Homo sapiens: one gene and its partners. The protein of the gene in region 4 purifies or fractionates together with the protein of the main gene of each other region. This does not show direct contact. Each region holds a gene or a part of one and is shown on either strand. Other genes may lie near its edges. The genes, in order: EXOC6B, P4HA2, ARHGEF2 and ASAP1.

The links.
Region 1: the proteins of ASAP1 (region 4) and EXOC6B fractionate together in Homo sapiens (co-fractionation; one large-scale study listed by BioGRID). This does not show direct contact.
Region 2: the proteins of ASAP1 (region 4) and P4HA2 purify together in Homo sapiens (co-immunoprecipitation; one large-scale study listed by IntAct). This does not show direct contact.
Region 3: the proteins of ASAP1 (region 4) and ARHGEF2 purify together in Homo sapiens (affinity purification with western blotting, with the first as the bait; one study listed by BioGRID). This does not show direct contact.

The regions. Positions count from the first base shown.
Region 1 is NC_000002.12:72,819,050-72,823,500, forward strand, and holds part of EXOC6B (exocyst complex component 6B), read right to left. Parts: intron 1-4,451. UniProt on the Homo sapiens protein: Component of the exocyst complex involved in the docking of exocytic vesicles with fusion sites on the plasma membrane.
Region 2 is NC_000005.10:132,203,461-132,207,911, reverse strand, and holds part of P4HA2 (prolyl 4-hydroxylase subunit alpha-2 isoform 2 precursor), read left to right. Parts: intron 1-27; coding exon 28-204; intron 205-3,759; coding exon 3,760-3,830; intron 3,831-4,064; coding exon 4,065-4,164; intron 4,165-4,451. UniProt on the Homo sapiens protein: Catalyzes the post-translational formation of 4-hydroxyproline in -Xaa-Pro-Gly- sequences in collagens and other proteins.
Region 3 is NC_000001.11:155,971,097-155,975,547, forward strand, and holds part of ARHGEF2 (rho guanine nucleotide exchange factor 2), read right to left. Parts: intron 1-4,451. UniProt on the Homo sapiens protein: Activates Rho-GTPases by promoting the exchange of GDP for GTP.
Region 4 is NC_000008.11:130,111,335-130,115,785, forward strand, and holds part of ASAP1 (arf-GAP with SH3 domain, ANK repeat and PH domain-containing protein 1), read right to left. Parts: intron 4,402-4,451; coding exon 4,294-4,401; intron 989-4,293; coding exon 760-988; intron 1-759. UniProt on the Homo sapiens protein: Possesses phosphatidylinositol 4,5-bisphosphate-dependent GTPase-activating protein activity for ARF1 (ADP ribosylation factor 1) and ARF5 and a lesser activity towards ARF6.

The DNA of each region.
Region 1 (4,451 bases), on a different chromosome or scaffold from region 4:
CCTGCTGTACCCCAGAGCCTGGAAGAGTATCTGGCACATAGACATTGCTCAATATTGAATGAATATATGAATGAATCAATTCATTAATAAAGCCACTAAAGTGACATCATTATAATGTATAAACCTGTATATAACATGTTAACTGAAAAAGCAAGACACATAATAATCATCTAATATTTAATATAATAACATGCATATAAAAAAGTTAAGAGGAAATATAAAAATATAAAAGTGGTGGAAAGGTAATAGAATTAAGTTATTTGTTGTTGTTTCTTCTTAAGTCATTCTATTACATTTATAATTAAAATATAAAAATGTCATTTTTAAAAGGGCACTACTATTAAAAAATAAGCATGAGCAATGGGAATGTTCTTCCCCTCAGTGATTGTCAAGGACGGAGTATATCACAATCACCTGAAGGGCTTTTATATATTTATTTCCTATCTCCTCCTCCTTTCTCTGCTCCACCCCAAAATAACCCCTCCCAGGATTGATTATTGATAAGTATTATATCCCTTAGATATGTGGGACCAGGAAAAGGAAACAAAAAAAATAGGCTAACCACTAAACTAACAAAACTCAAAAAATAGAAATACTTAAGTCCACATAGCAAACCCAAGGGTAAAGGTGGAAGATGACTCACACTTGAGTGACCAATGCCTAGCAGGTACCATGGCACCCCATCTACATTGGAGGAAGAGTATGAAAAGAAAAAAGAGAGAGAGAGAGAGAAAGCATCATTCATGCTACCTGCTAGGCAGTAGTCCTAGCTTGGTACCTTGCATTGTACCATGAAGGATGCTTTATCTTCATTTTTCTAATCACTTTTTAGATGAGAAAAAATTGCCCACTTGGGTGGTAAGTTGCTTATAAAAATAAATTGATTTAATTTATTAAAGAGAGCCATGGACCTATAATGAGAAAGTGTCACGAACCAAGGATTATGATTAACTGATCTCTGTAAAGATGAATTAATGGGAGAGGGTGCTGGATGGAAAAATAAGAGCCATGTGGTCAAAGGCACAGAAGTAGTAAGTGGATGCCACATCCCCATATTCACTTATCAAATGACCTTAAATAAAACAGCCTTTTGAAAATATCCCCCTCAATTTGTTTCTTGTTTATAAAGAGCTAGCTTTATAAACAAACAACTTAAAAAAGCAAGACAGAAAATTATTCCTACACCCATAAGTAAAGCTTTGTAATAATAAAATATATAAGGCAAAGTTCTAGAAGGAAAAGCACCAAAACAACAGCAGCTGTGTTATAGAATTGTAAGCAATTTTTAATCTAGTTTCCAAATTCCATATGTTGACATACTGTTTTAACAGTGAAAAAGGTAACTGTATCATTAATATACTTTATGTTACATAAGACTGAGTAGTATGACACAAAATAATTCCAGAAGACAATAATCAGTCCCTAAAGTTATTTACCAAGATCAAATATAGGAATCAAATCATTCTTATGATACAGGAATTGAGCCAAAAAGAGAAAAACTTTCGCTGAAAACTAGAGCAAACTTCCCTGGGTGAGAATACTAAATGAAGGAAGTTAGGCTAGCTAGCAAAAATCACATAAACTCAATAACAGGGTTTTCAATGTTACATTTCTGCCACAAATAAGGAACATAAATCATGATAAGGAGATCAAAATAAATCAACCAGGAATCTGGGTTTTTTAAAAAATAAAAAAAGCAGTCAACAAATGGTGTTGGAACAACTGGATATCCACATGCTAAAGAATGAAACTGGACACTCCTCCTTACATTGTAAACAAAAATTAACTCAAAATGAATCACAGATCTAAATGTAAAAGATAAAATTATATAACACTTAGAAAAAATATAGGAGCAAATCTTCATGATCATGCATTACGCAAAAGTTTCCTAAATATAACATCAAAAGCATGAAACAAAATAAGAAAAAAAATGATAACTGGAATTAATTTAAATTAAAAACTTTTGTGCAGCAAAAGCTAAGAACATGAAAGATATCAAAAAATGGAAAAGACAAATCACAGAATAGGATATAGTATTACAAATCATATATCTGATAACAGGACATATTCAGAATACATAGAGAACTCCTACAACTCAACCAAAAAAAGAAAAGCAAATAACCCAATTTAAAAACGGGCAAAGGATCCAAAAGGGATAAACAATGACCAATAAGCACATGAAAAGAACAGCTATTACGGGAATGCAAATCAAAACTACAATGAAATGCAACTTCACACCCACAAGGATGGCAAAGTAAAAAAGATGATAACAAGTGTTGACAAGGATGTGGAAAAATTGGAACCCTGATACATTGCTACAGGAATGTAAAATGGCGCATGCACTTTGGAAAAACAGTCTAGCAGTTCCTCATAATGTTAAACATAGAGTTACCTTACAGCCTAGAAATTCCACTCCTAGGTACATACTCAACAAAAATGAAAACATATGTCTCTACAAAAACTAGTATACAAATGGCCATGGCAGCATTGTTCCACAGCCCCAAAATGGAAACAACCCAAATGTCCATCAACTGATGAACAAATAAAATGTGGTATATCCACACAATGGAATATTATTCATCGATAAAAAGAAATTAAGTACTGATACATGCTACCACATAGATGAACCTTGAAAACATTCAGTTACCAAAAAAACCCATATTGTTTGATTCCATTTATACAAAATGTCCCGATGTCCAGAACAGCCAAACCCATGAAGAAAAGTAGTGATTGCCTAGGGAGAGAGAGGGAACAGAATGGAGAGACCACTAATGGGTACAAGGTTTCTTTTTGAGTAATGAAAATTTTCTAAAATTAGGTTGTGGTGATTGCTGCACAACTCTGCGAATATACATACCCAAAACCATTTAATTGTATACTTTAAATGGGTAAATTGTATGATACATGAATTATATCTCAATATAGTTGTTTTTTAATGGCAATGTATTTCAATATTAAATTTTAAGTTTGAAAACAAAATCTTAAACAACAATTAGACTGAATGTTAATTGCTATTACCCAGAGTACCAAGTGAAGAAATGACTTCTACTGAGTAAGTGATATAAAGGAAAAGTAGAGATATAGGGATGGGATTTGAAAAATGAAAACAGGGAGCTATTGTTCATAAATGATTTGTCATCAAAATTTTAGTATTTATAACACAAAGCAGGAATGAACATTATTTTAAAAACAGGACAGGCAGGCTTTAACATCTTACAGGCCTCTTTCCAAAATTAGGACTCACAGATAACAAAATAATTTTTAAGGTAAAGACAAAGAGAGAGATAGCTACTTTCCCAAAAGAGTTTGCTAGGCAACACCCTCTTTATGTGTGGATATGCTTGGGCCTTTCAGAATTACAATGAAAAAGAAGAGGTGGTATATCCTTATGATAGATGGGAATCTACCAACATTGCATGTACAGCTCAAAACTAAAGTAATAACAGTAATATAATGAAAAAGTCAAGCCACTGTGACTCCTCAAACAAAAAGGAGTAAGACTGGAAAAAATAATCCGTATCATAGCAAAGAAAGAAAGCAAGTAATGATACACAAATAATAGCTGGCAAAGGAAAGAGTCTGGTTAGGCAATACAGCCAAGTGGATTTTTTTGAAGAGCAGGTATTTTAGGGATATACTAATCTAATATCTGCTCTCAATTTACTTTCTGTGTTCGTTAGTTTCTCTTCAGCTAGAAAACCCATCTCACGAACAGTTAAGAATCTGGTGCCTTTACAATGTTACCTCAAAAGATGAAGAAAGAGGAAAGACATACTATGAAGAAGAAAAGTTCGAGGTTTACAACTGAGAGTAGTTAAGGCAAGAGAGCTACTGCCTTAATCAAACCTGTTTCATGATAGTGATGAAAAACAGGAGATAATGACAATAGAGGCACATCCCAAGTAAGGCATGGGATCTGAAACATCAAGTCTGTGCATGCTGCTGCCTCTGAACGGGATAAGGAAAAAAGGTGAGATCATCCCCTATGAATATGGGTAGGGACAGCTAGACTAAAGACAAAGGCAGTGGGTACTCCTTGTATTATAGGATATTCAAGTGAATGAACCCTGGGTCTGACAGTAAGACTCAGTGTAATCTGCTAAAAAAAAAAAAAAAAAAAAAGTTGAGATCAAAAATGATGAGCCCATAATAATCATATAGGAAGTCAAGAAAAGCAAGTAAAACTGGTAATGAGTCTCAAACTTTCTTTTTTTTACAGTGTCCCCTTAGGGCAAAAGACCTCTTAATCCATCTATCTACACAAAACCCCACTTTTCAGTGAAAAAACTCAGTAACAACAATGAAACAAGTTTTAGGGAGACTGGGTAACTTATATTTAAACCGTAATGTATATACAGTTGACCCTCTGTATCTGCAGGTTCAACCAACTTCTCAAATCAAAGTTTTAAGAAAAAAAAAAAAAAAAAAACAAAAAACAAAAAAAAAGACAG
Region 2 (4,451 bases), on a different chromosome or scaffold from region 4:
CAGGGCCTGTTACTCTGTGCTTTCCAGACACCCCGTAGACAGAAGAGGCTTTTCTGTAGGTACCACCATGGCAACAGGGCCCCACAGCTGCTCATTGCCCCCTTCAAAGAGGAGGACGAGTGGGACAGCCCGCACATCGTCAGGTACTACGATGTCATGTCTGATGAGGAAATCGAGAGGATCAAGGAGATCGCAAAACCTAAAGTAGGTGTCACTGTAGGTCCTTCTCGGGTCACTGAAGGGGGAAGGTCCTTTTTCTCATCCCTAGCACTATGGGTGGTTGGTTTGCCCATCTAGCCACCCTTTATCCATATCTAGCATGGGCCTACCGTGGGGATACAGAGATGCTTCAGACTCAGCCTGACCTTGTGAGTTCATGGTCCAGTGGAAGAAGAACAGGGTAACCAATGTGGACAGCCAAGTGCTATCATAGAAGGTCACGCTGGGAACAGGGCAGGTCTACACTGGTGTGTCAGTTCACCTGGTTGGGAGACTGGTGCGTGGGTGAGTTTTTTGGAAATGTTCCATAGGATGCTATGAAGCTGGGTCCTGTGGAGCTCCTGATTAGGACTGTAAATGAGGTGAATGACTTAGAGGAGAATGTATATCTTTATAATATTGGGTCTTCTCATCCAAGGGCATGACAGGTCTCTCCATATCTTTTTAAGTTTTCTTCATATAAGCCTTGAACATTTCTTAAGTTTATTCCTTGGTAGTTTCTTTGTTACTGTTAATTTACTTTATTTCTTCATTATTATTTTTAACTGGTTACATTATTTTATTAGTTTACTATTATATGCCAAACTATTGATTTTACAAATACATTTCATAGTAAGAGCTAATGTTTACTGAATTCTTAACTGTGGCAGGAACTTCTAAGTGCTTAACATATATATTAAGTGTTATGTCACAGTTATGAACAGCTGCTCATAATGATGTCACTGTCTCTGTTTTACCTATGAAAAAGCAAACTCATACAGATTGCAGCTAGTGGTTGAATTTACTTATTTCTTTTTTGGTTTTTAGCTGATTTCTCTTTGGTTGCCTGGATAGCATTAACACCTGGAAATAAGGAAAATTTTATTTTCTCCTGATACTTGTAGTTCCTTTGTTTTTATAACCTTATTGAATTGCCCAGAACTTCTAGAGCATAATTACGTAGAATAGGCATCCTTGTCTCATTCCTGAATTTCCTGGAAATTCCTATGGTATTTTACTGCTAAGAATGCAGTTGGCTGTTGGTTTTGTATATATGCCATGTTTTAAAATTATTCTTCTGTTTCTAGTTCATAAAAGATTTGTTCCCCATTTGACATCTTTCAAAGAGACCTATTTGCTGCCATATCCCATCACTGATGATTGGGAGGGAGGATTTAGCTCGATTCTCTATTGCTCTGCTCCTAATAGAATTGTAGGGGCCGAGGTGACCAGGAGGCCCGACACTCATGGAGAGACCTGAAATAGGTTCCTATCCTGGCCCCTGGACCTCATCTTGGAACAGCTTTGGCTTGAGGTACTAGGACATCTAGGGCTTTGAGTCAGTGGTTGGCATCATCGATGTGGCTGAGGAAGGGGGCTAGCCAGATATATGGAGAATGGGGACTAGGACTCCCCTTTCTACTCAGCTCCAGAGTCCTCCAGGAAAGAAAACTACTTTGTTGGTTGTGCCAGGATTTCCTGAGAGATTTCTTACCCGTTCTTCAGTTCCAGACACTGAGAACATTTCTCTGTGCATGTGTGCATATGTGTACACATGTGTGTGGCTGGCCAGAGGGTAGTGTTAGGAAAAGATATATTTGAATAGAAGCCATGCAAAGAGCCAAACAAGGTTGGCAAACATGTTTGGCTCTTAACATGGCTTCTATTCAAAGATAAGCTGACCCCTCCTTTCCGGAGACTGTGAGGGACAGATGCTATTCTGGCTTTGAAGTAGAGCCAATGAGCTTAACTTGGCCTGTGGGGAATGCCTGGCAGCTGTCTGTGGGGTCTCTGGCCTGCTTTCAAAATAGCCCTGTGCTTCCCCTGGGGCAGAGCACAGCTGCTCAGAGCCTCTTTGTGGGTGTCAGGCCAATGCTGAGGCACAGATGTTTGGATGGGGTCTGGCTGTGGCTGCAGTTTTCAGGGAGGGACTGACATGAGCTGAAGCTCAGGAAGGGCCATGAGTAGGAGCTTGGGAGCCGTCTGTCCTGCTTGTGCTGGCCATCTTACCAGATCATGCCATAGCAGCACAGTGTCCAAGTTGGTCCATCTCACCCCCTTACTAGCCTTCTGGTCCATCTACTCCTCTCCATCCCTTCTGCCACCACCTGGCCCGGGCCACCATCATCTCTTGCCCTGACCTCTGTCGTGGCCTCACTAGCCTCCCAGTCCCCACTCTGGCCCCTCATTAGTCAACTCTCCATGAGGTATTCACAGTGATCCATTTTACATTCACATTTTGAGTGTCCCTCCCCTGCATAAAGCCTTCCCCATTTCTCGTTGGCCACAAGGTTGCATCTAGTTCCTAGCCCCTGCTTGTCTCTTCAGCCTGTTCTCTCTTACTACTTCCCATAACCTTTAATCCACACCTACTGCAACACCCATTTTCATTCCCAGGCCTCTGGATTGCTGCTCTTTCCCTGTTCCTGTAATGTTCCTCTACTTGGATAACTCATGTTAACCCTTCAGGCCTCAGCTAGGTGGTCTCCTCCCCTAGGAAGCTATTCTTGACACTATACCCTGAGCTTCCACAGGATGGTAAGTTCACCCATGCTGTGCTGCAGTTACCTGACTGGTTTTCTGCTTTCCCCACTTGACTGAGTTGTAAGAGTGCAGGGGCCATGTCTCAGTTACCTAGCATAGTGCCAGGCACAAAGTAGGCACTCATCAATATTTATTGAAATCAAGGGGAAGTGTGTTGGGGTGGGAGTACCTGGGCCTATGGCCCCACCCATGTGAGGTCATGAGGACAGTCCACAGCTGAAGCACATGGACCTTTGCCATGTTGGCTGGCTCTGGGCGGCGAGTCCCCCTTGGGGTTTCACTAAGCCTAACTGTGGAGGCTGGGGGAGATGAAGTAGATGCAGGGAGTGCATGTGTAGTGTGTACCTGTATGAGTGGGTGGCTTCCAGGCAGTGGTTCACTTATTTTAACTTACAGAATCTTTTCCTGGTTTTATCATCTGACTTGTAAGGATCCCAAGGGAGCGAAAACTGTGCCATCTGTCTTTGCTTCTTGAGGCTGTGGGAACCCAGTGTGAGGTGGTGCAGCAGGAGAGTGTTTGGATGGGTTTCTTGGCAGAGGAGCCCACTGAGGTTCGGAAGGATGGTGGAACTTGACTCAATTGAGAGAAGTACATAAGGCGGAGGCTCAGGCATGGTGGCACAGTCTGAAAATGGTGGGAGTAGCTAAGCTCAGGCAGGCTGTGCTCAGGCAGGGGTGGTATGTGGGCCTGGCAAGGAAAGGGGCTAGTCAGGCAGATGCATGGGTAGACAAGGCAGGCATAATTCTGCAGGCAAAGCGGACCTGGGGAGGAGAAGGGATGAGCAGTGACCGAGCAGGGCAATAGCCAGGAACTGATTGCGGATTGGGAATGTGGAGGCCTCAGACTCTTGCCCTCAACTGGCCTGCAGGATCTTGGGGCCTTGGCTAGAGCCATTGGCTGCAAAGCTTCCTCCACTAGCATGGCAGTAAATCTGGTCCCAGTGCTCTCTGGGAAAATATTCAAGGCAAAACAAACAAACAAACAAATCAAGTCTTCCCTCTCCTCCTTCCTTCTAGCTTGCACGAGCCACCGTTCGTGATCCCAAGACAGGAGTCCTCACTGTCGCCAGCTACCGGGTTTCCAAAAGGTAAGCAAAGAGCAGGGGTTCGTAGCTGCTCAAGCCCCAACTTCAGGACTTCTCAGTGCCTACCCTAGGGATGGGTGGCTTGCCTTTTCCTGCCTGCTGGCACCTCCTCACCCCCTTGCAGCAGGCATCCTGTACTGCCTGTTCATGCTGGCCCTGACTCTGGGGACAGAGTTCAGGACCTCATGGAAGCCTGCCCTTCCGTCTTCTTTTCTCTGCCCTTTTCTTTTTGCCCAGCTCCTGGCTAGAGGAAGATGATGACCCTGTTGTGGCCCGAGTAAATCGTCGGATGCAGCATATCACAGGGTTAACAGTAAAGACTGCAGAATTGTTACAGGTACAGATAGTACCTGGGACTGTAGGAGTTGGGAAGTGGGTATTTGTGGCTAGATGGTCTCACAGGGTGTCCAGAACTGGGCCAAGAGGCCCAACTGTATGACTACTGCCTGATGCTATGAATATGGAGTGATCTCATTTTAGGAAACCAGAATTAATCATGCCTGCTGGCTTTCAACAATTAGTGTTCAACAAATATCTATTGAGCATCTGCTGTGTGCCCAAGTGTGCTGCAAGCTAGGGATCAGGGGTAGTTATGGTAGGTTCGTTCATGTCTTCTTGACAACA
Region 3 (4,451 bases), on a different chromosome or scaffold from region 4:
ACGCAGGCCAACTGCTCCTCTACCTAGGCTTATTCAGGAAGCTGAGCTGCCTCTAGCCTCTAACTCAAACCTCTAAAATGTTCTGGCCTCCTTTTTTCTATTCTGGCACCTACCTACCCGGACCACTAGAAAATGCTCCCTTTGGTCTAACCTCCACCTATCTTGCACCAAATTATACCTCTTTAGAAGTTCAAATTCAGGCTGGGTGCAGTGGCTCACACCTGCAATCCCAGCACTTTGGGAGGTCGAGGCGGGTGGATTACCTGAGGTCAGGAGTTCGAGACCAGCCTGACCAACATGGTGAAACCCCATCTCTACTAAAAATACAAAAAATTAGCTGGGCGTAGTGGCAGGCACCTGTAATCCCAGCTACTTGGGAGGCTGAGGCAGGAGAATTGCTTGAACCGGGGAGGTTGGAGGTTGTGGTGGGTTGAGATTGGGCCACTGCACTCCAGCCTGGGCCACAGAGTGAGACTATGTCTCAAAAAAAAAAAAAGAAGTTCAAATTCACCTTTGAATAATAACCTCACAGGACCTCAAACACCAAGTCCAAAAATCTCTTCCCACTGCCATATACTCTCCCTTTTCTCCTCCTCTCCTGCCCTCCCAGCCTTCTATATAACTCAAACCAAAAGTTTGAGCATGTATTACATTTGAATTAAAAGCAAGAGGCCGGTGAGGTGGCTCACACCTGTAATCCCAGCACTTTGCGGGGCTGAGGTGGGAGGATCGCTTGAGGCCAGGAGTTTGAGAACAACCTGAGCAACACAGCGAGACCCATCTCTATAAAAAAAAAAAATATATACATATATATATATACACACATAAGTAAAAGCAAGCAAGCTGAAAATAGTATTAAAAAAAACAACATGGCTGGACCAGGGTCACTCCAGAATGGGCAGTGCTGCAGCTCTGCCCCAGTGCTGCTACGAGTACTCTCTTCCACACCTGACCTCTGTCCTTTGCCCTCCACCCTCCCCCTGTGGCATCCACAAACACTCATCTGTCTGACCAGCTCAGATGGAGTGGCAAAGGGAGGGAGAAGACTGGGGCAGCCAGAGAACAGGGTCTCTAGTGGCCCTTCCTCTCTCTGGCATCAATGCTCCACAGACAGCCCTGGTACTCTGGGCCCTGCCTCCTCCACCTCCCAACACTCACCCTCTCTCGAAGTGACCCCTGCTCTAGGTGGGCCAGCAGCGGGCAGCAGCCACAGCAGCAGCACATCCCAGCATGGGCACTGCCCAGCAGCAAGCGACCCTGGCACTGCCTAGTGCTATTGTCCCGGAGGTTGCCTGTGCCCGCCCCAGGGCTCAGGCTTCTGAGGATGGAAGGACATAGGGCCTGCTTACCAGGGGTGCCTGCTCCAGAGGTGGAGTGAGTGGGCTTGTTTGGTTCTTTGTCCTACTCTTTTCCAGGTATTCTTAAGATAATCACATTGGTCTCCCATTTACCCACGCCCAAGTAGGACAGCCCTTTACCTCCAAGACCCAACCTATGCACCAAGAAAAAGGGCCCATTACTCCACAATCCATAACACCCACCCCAGTGCTCAGAGGCCCTTCCTGCTTGGTTCAGTCCTTTGCTCTCCAGCATCTAGATACTTTTTTTTTTCTTTTTTTTTTTGAGACAGGGTCTCACTCTGTTGCCTGGACTGGAGTACATTGGCATGATCATGGCTCACCGCAGCCTTGACCTCCCGGGCTCAAGTGATCCTTCCACCTCAGCCCTCCAAATAGCTGGGACCACAGGCATGCATCATGATGCTCACCTAATTTTTAAATTTTTTTTGTAGAGACAGCGTCTTGCTATGTTGCCCAGGCTGGTCTCGAACTCCTAGGATCAAGTGATCCTCCTGCCCCAGCCTCCCCAAAGTGCTAGAATTATAGGTGTGAGCCACCACGCTCAGACCTAGAGTCATTCTGTCTCTTTCTCACAAATCCCATGGGAAGTTCTTCTTGCTACACACCTTCATCCACACTACTGCTACATCAAGGATAAATAAAGAATATGAAAGCCCTTAGCACAATACCTGGTATACAATAGGCACCCAATACATGTCTCAAAATGAAAGAAAAGGAAGGAAGCAAAGAAGCAAGGAAGGATGTATGGACACCAAGACATGGGGTCTCAGTAGCACCCTGGCCCCTATTCTGGAAACCCTCTTCCTTCCTTATCAGAGCTTTAGAACCTTCTGTCTCTTCTTGTTTCTCTTTTCTCCCTCCTCCTGAAGGGCTCTAAGCCATTCTCTCCTATTTCCTTTGAGTTTAGACCCTGAGGGTTTCCTCTGGAAGTCAGAAGACCAACCCCAAACTTCCTTCCACTGTCATCCCAGATCTCAGTCACTTTTGGGAAAGAAAGACAGGGCCAGGCCGAGCGCAGTGGCTCATGCCTATAATCCTAACACTTTGAGAGGCCGAGGCGGGCAGATCACTTGAGATCAGGAGTTTGAGACCAGCCTGGCCAACATGGCAAAACCCCATCTCTACTAAAAATACAAAAATTGGCCGGGTATGGTGGTGGGCACCTGTAATCCCAACTACTCAGGAGGCTGAGGCAGGAGAATTGCTTGAACGCAGGAGGTGGAGGTTGCAGTGAGCCAAGATCATGCCACTGCACTCCAGCCTGGGTGACAGAGCGAGACTCTGTCTCAAAAAAAAAAAAAGAAAAGAAAAAAGAAAGAAAGATGGGAGCAATGGCAGAGGGCATTGTGGATCTCTACTGAAAAGCTCAAAGGCAAACACAGTCTCCCCTCTTCTCTCCACTTTGTCTCCCAGAATAAGGGATGAGGAAACAGTGACGTACATGGAGGGGAAGGCAATGCCAAGGCTAGGACTTTGGCTTCCTGGGCTCCCAGCAGGCAGCAAGGCCAGGCAGATCCACCCAGGCGAGGTAGAGCTTCTCCAAGCAAGCCCTAAGCTCTCATCTGACTTTTTTTTTTTTAATAATAGATTTTAAAAACTTAATGTTTTTGTAGAGATGAGGTCTCACTATGTTGCCCAGGCTTGTCTCAAATTCCTGAGCTCATGCGATCCAGCTGCCTTGGTCTTCCAAAATGCTAGGATTACAGGTGCGAGCCACTGTGCCCAGCTCTCTCAGCTGCCTTTGCTTCTCTCTCAGGTATGTCCAAATCAAGACTTCTGGGAGAGTCACAGAGTACTCAGAATCACCTCTCCTCCAGCTGTACCTGGCAGCAGCCCCTTCCCCAAGATGGTGACACCTCTGTCCACACCCTCTGTAATAGTGACCGGAGAGCCTGTGGAGCATTCCACCAGGATTCGAGTCACCTGTGGCTCAGCCCCTGTACAGCAGAGGCGCCGTTGGCTATGAAGGGCACTGAGTCCTGGAGGAGGAGCTATAGGGCTGGGAAATGAAGAGGTGAGGGATTGCTGGGGGTGGGACTGAGAAGAGGGCTTGGGGTGGTCTCAGCCGGGCCCTGCTCCTTTATGAGCTTCCAGGGACAAGATGAAGACAGGAGGCAGAGGGGAAGGCAGCCAAGTGGAAACACTAATGCCAAAGCCAGAAACAACACAGAAAGACATCACTGCACACACAAAGGCACTTAATAAATGCTTGCTTAGTGAATGAAGATGAGACACTGGCAATGGGAGTGGGTACGGGTGAAACGGAAGAGGATTGCTAAGGGCCACAAGGAATAAATCAGGTTAGGGACCCTGAGACCCAAGCATCCTGGAACCCAGCCTGCCCCCTACGCGGCCACACCTGTCAGGCCAGGAGAGAGAGACAAGCAGAAAGAGAGGGGGGGTAAGCGATGCAAACAGACAGGCATTTGTGCAAGTGAACAATAGCTGTGCCAGGACTCCCTGCCCTCCTGGCACAAGGCAGGCCGGCTGGGTTGGGAGGGGGGCAGCTGCTGCCTGCAACCCCACCCCCACCCTCTCCCAAAGAGACATAAACAAACCCGGAAGGGTCCAGCCAGCTCCTCTCAGCCTTTTCTCTTACCAGCTTCAGAAATCCTAACCAATCCGCTCACTCAGCTCCTAGATGATATTTCCAACCAGAAACTGAAGCTAAGGATGAAGCTACTTCCTCGTGGCCAGAGAGCACGAACCCCCTACTTTGCTGACCACTGTTCAAAACAGTAGCCCAGAGCATCTGGGTACAGAATAGGAGGGCAGGCAGGCAGACAGACACACTGACACACCAGCACACCAGTAACATGCACACAGGGGATGCACACATTCACATCTGTCCCCTCCTTGATTCCAAGGTCAAATTCCACAGCCAGAGTGGCTAAGATCAGACCCCACTGTAACTCCTCTGGTCGGCCTCAGTAGGTCCTTCTCTAGGCCCCATCTAACCTCCTGCAAGTCACTCAGTGACTTCCCTAAGCTTTAGACTCCCTTCCCCTATCCTCACTTCTCCCCTCCCCCTCAACTCTCTCCCTAACCTCCACGACCCCTAGAATTTTTGTCTATGTCCCCAGAAGCCTC
Region 4 (4,451 bases):
AAGGCCTGTCTCAAGGGAAAAAAAAAATTCCTCTCCAAGTACTGTCTCTGGAAAAATGTTCCTTATTAGAGAGTACAAGAGAATGGGCTTTGGTCACACAGAACCTGGGTTAGAATCCCAGGCTGAGAACTACAGGCCAATTACTCAGTATCTCTGAACAAATCCCCTAATTCACATGATGCCAGTAACTGCATAATAGCACCTACCTCATTTTGAGATGATTACAAAAGAAGTACTAGGCGTAGAGCCTCTCATAAGGCAAGTGCTCCATAACTATTAACTACCACTATTATTACTAGCGTCTTCAAAAGAGTGGCATTTTAATGTAGAGAAAAGTAACTTTCCAGAGAACTGAAACTCCACTCCACATTATAAAAAGTACAGGTTCTGGAGCCACGTGGACCTCAGATTGAATCTCAACTTTACCTCTTACCAGTGGTGTGACCTTGGGCTGGTCAGTGTATCTCATTGAGCCTTAGTTTCCTCTTCTGTAAAATGGGCACAAAAGCACATACTTCACAGGATTGTTGTAAGGTTAACACAAATAATGCACAAAGAGAGCCCACAGCACTGCCTGTCCTGCTCTTGGTACCTGGCAAATGGCATGGTCCCTATTTCAAGCTGCTCCTGACAACACGATCCGCGCCACTCAAATGTACCTTGCAATTCTTACCTCAAAGCTGGCTAGACTATCAGCTCTGAGGATGGAGTCACAAGCCCTTCGAGGATGGAGTCACAAGCCCTTCTCAAAGCCCATACCTTTCCCGGCGTTCCTAGGAGGCAGAGGGGGAGCCTCCGTGGTTGGTGATGTGGGCGAGTCTGTGCTTGTGGAAACGAAGATCTGGTTGGTGAAGGCTCCATAGGAGAGCCGCTGTTTGTCCCTTGGAGTGCTGAATCCTGGCAGTGCCAGCTTGTCCTGGGGGGAGATGCTGGAGGAGTGGCAGAAGCTCTGAGGTCTGGGTGAGCGCTCTTTCTTGATAGGGCTTGGCTGGCAGATGAAATAAGAAGGTGAGATAATAATCAAGGACCACCCTTCATGTGTACAGAGGGCCTCCGCAGGGCGGGCTCAGGTGGGAATCTGGGTTCCTGTGGCTCTCTGAGCTTTATGAGGTCAGCCACAATGAGCCTCATGATGCTGACACAGTACAAGGGAAGGATCTAGATACCACACTTTCATATCGTTCACCACTATGAATAATCACACTAGTGAAACACTGGTTAGGATCAGCAGCAGTGTCAGAAGCACAGTAAGGTCACAGGTAGATTTAACTTTTAATAAGCAAACACCTTCAGAATGCAGGACTTTTTCAGCAACATTTGAATAGTATTTCCACCTATTTCTAATTTGCTACATTAAGTTTTGTTCCCTGCTCAACCCTTTAACGTTGAAGTTCTTTCTTTGCCTCTTTTCTCATTTTATATCCCCCTGCAAAGTAAACGGATTCACACCCACTGCCCGCTACACAATAATTACTTACAGATCTGTAAATACAACCCCAGTGACTTGTGTTCCAAACCAATGGCCCATGAGGTATCTCTGGTATTTGCGCTTGTGGTGATGGCATTAGGATCCACTCAACTGCCCAGGTTAGAAACCTCAGTGTCACCTGGAGTCCCTGGTTCCTGCATTCCCCTTGGAAATATCCCTTGAAGCCCCTCCTAGTACAGGTGCTCACCAGCTCCCACTGCAGCTCTAGCCTCCAGAATGGCCCCTTCTCCAGTTTCCTTCCTCCAGTCCATTCTCCACACTGCAGCCAGAGCTGGTGGGAAACCTTGCTCTTTAGACAATAAACCTCTGTGGGCTTCTGACTGCTTGCACAAAAACCCAAAGGCCAAACCTTGCCCACAAAGCCATCCTGATCTGGTTTGCCTGACTCTACAAGGCAGCTGCCTGCCTCTCCCCACCCAGCCAGGTGAATGCATCTCACACACAGTGCTTCTCTCCATTCCTCCGACATCCAGACTCTACCATGACTCCTTCCCTTGGCACGTGGTGTTCTGGAATGATGCATTCCACCCCACTTCTTTCCCTGGCAAGCTTCCACCTATCCTTAGAAACCCATCTCCAATGTCCTTGAGAAGGCAGACTGAGGCAGCTGCTTGGTCCTCTGAATAGCTCTCAGGAATTTTTCCATACTCTTATAATGATTATCACATTGTATTATAATTTATTTCCTCTTAAAGTTGTTAAGGCTTGAGGACCTCTTTGGCCATTCCTTACATCCTGCCTGTGATACAGGAAATGTCCAATACATAGGCAATCAATTAATGCATGAATGAACTTTCAGAGGTAGTTAACTGCTTATAAGGAAAACTCAGTGAGAACTGGGTTTAATCCTCCAAACTGTCTTTACTAGCTGGGAGACTTTAGACAAGTTGCTAAATTCTCTTTGTAAGTTTTCTCTTCTGTAAAATGGGGATAACAATGTCCCTTATGTACTTTTTTTTTTTTTTCCTCTGAGACAGGGTCTCACTCAGACACCCACACCCAGGCTGGAGTGCAATGGGACAATCTTGGCTCATCACAGCCTTGAGTTCCTGGGCTCAGGTGATTCTCCCACCTCTGCCTCCCGGGCAGCTGGGACCACAGGCGCACACCACCACGGCCAGCTAATTTTTGTATTTTTTGTAGAGAGAGGGTTTCGCCATGTTGCCCAGGCTGGTCTCAAGCTTCTGGGCTCAAGGCATCCACCCGTCTCACCCTCCCAAAGTGCTGGGATTACAGGTGTGAGCCACAGCACTCAGTTATGGACTTTCAATAAAGATGATCTGAGATAACGTAAGTGCTTAAATCTGTCTAATCCATATTTAATGAACATCATTCCTTAATGACAGGCATACATTCTGAGAAATGTGTTAGGTGATTTCGTTCTTGTGCGAACATCATAGAGTATACTTACACAAACCTAGATGGGAGAGCCTACTACACACCTAGGCTATATGGTATAGCCTATTGCTCCCAGGCTACAAACCTGTACAGCATGCTACTATACTAAACATTGTAAACAACTGTAACACAATGGTAATTACTTGTGTATCTAAACATAGAAGAGGTAAAATAAAAACATGTTATATAAGATTAAAAAATGGTACATCTATGTAGGACACTTTCCATAAATGGAGCTGGAAGGACTGGAAGCTGCTCTGGGTGTGAGTGAAGGCCTAGGACATTACTGTACATTTTTATACAACTCAGTGCAGTAGGTTGGTTTATACCAGCATCCCACAACCATTTGAGGAATGTGTTGCACTACCGTATTATGACATCTATGGCATCACTAGGTGATGGCTATTTTTCAGCTCCGTTTTAATCTTATATTGATCCCCATTGAGTATGCAGTGTGTTGTGGACTGAAATGTTATTATACAGTGCATGATTATGTTCAATAAATAACAACTGTTATTTACTTACTAATTACTTGTTTTGAAGGTTAATTTTTTTTTTTTTTTTTTTTAAGATATAGGGTCTTGCTCTGTCATTCAGGTCAAGAGTGCAGTAGTACAATCATAGCTCACTGCAGCCTCAAACTCCTGGGCTCAAGCAATCCTCCTGCCTCAGCTTGTCAAATAGCACCACCACGTTTTATTGATTGATCCATTTACTTTGTAGAGACAGGGTCTCACCATTTTGCTTAGGTTGCTCTCGAATTCCTGGTCTCAAGCGATAGTTCTGCCTTGGCCTCCCAAAGCGCTGGGATTATAGGCATGAGCCACCATGCCTAGCTTCATGGTTAATTTTATGTGTCAACAGGCTACAGTGTCCTGGTGTTTGGTCAAATACTAGTCTAGATGTTGCTGTAAAGGAATTTTTTAGATGCAATTACCATTTAAATGAGTAGATTTCGAGTCAAGGGAACTACCCTTCATGATGTGGGTGTGCCTCACCTAATCAGCCAAAGAAAGGCCTTAAAAAGACTGAGGTCCCCCAAAGGGTAAGGAATGCTGCCTCCAGACTGTCTTTAGCCTGAAGACTGCAACATTAACTCCTGCTGGGATTTCCAGCCTGCTGGCCTGCCCTGTGCATTTTGAACTTGACAGCTCCTTCAATCATGTGAGCCAATTCCTTAAAAAAAATTTCTCTGTCTCTCTCCCTATCCTGTTGGCTCTGTTTCTCTGGACAACCTTAATATAGCTGTTAAATGGTGCCCAATAAGGACTGAACAACATAAATGGCCCTGATACATTGGATCATAAAACCACAATCAATCAATCTCACCAAAAATGGATCTTGTCTACACAGACTAGAAAAGTTGGGGTAGTTGTTGAGAATTCGAGGACATAATTTACACTCACTTTGTCATCCAGATCATCATCGCTCTCATCTATCTCCTCCTGTCGAAGATTCCACTCATATTCTACGTGGACGTGTGGATTGAACTTTCCAGATTTAGCCTGGGAAAGCTGGAAGGAACAGCAAATGTGCACCATTTTAATTTAAATGCTGAAACATC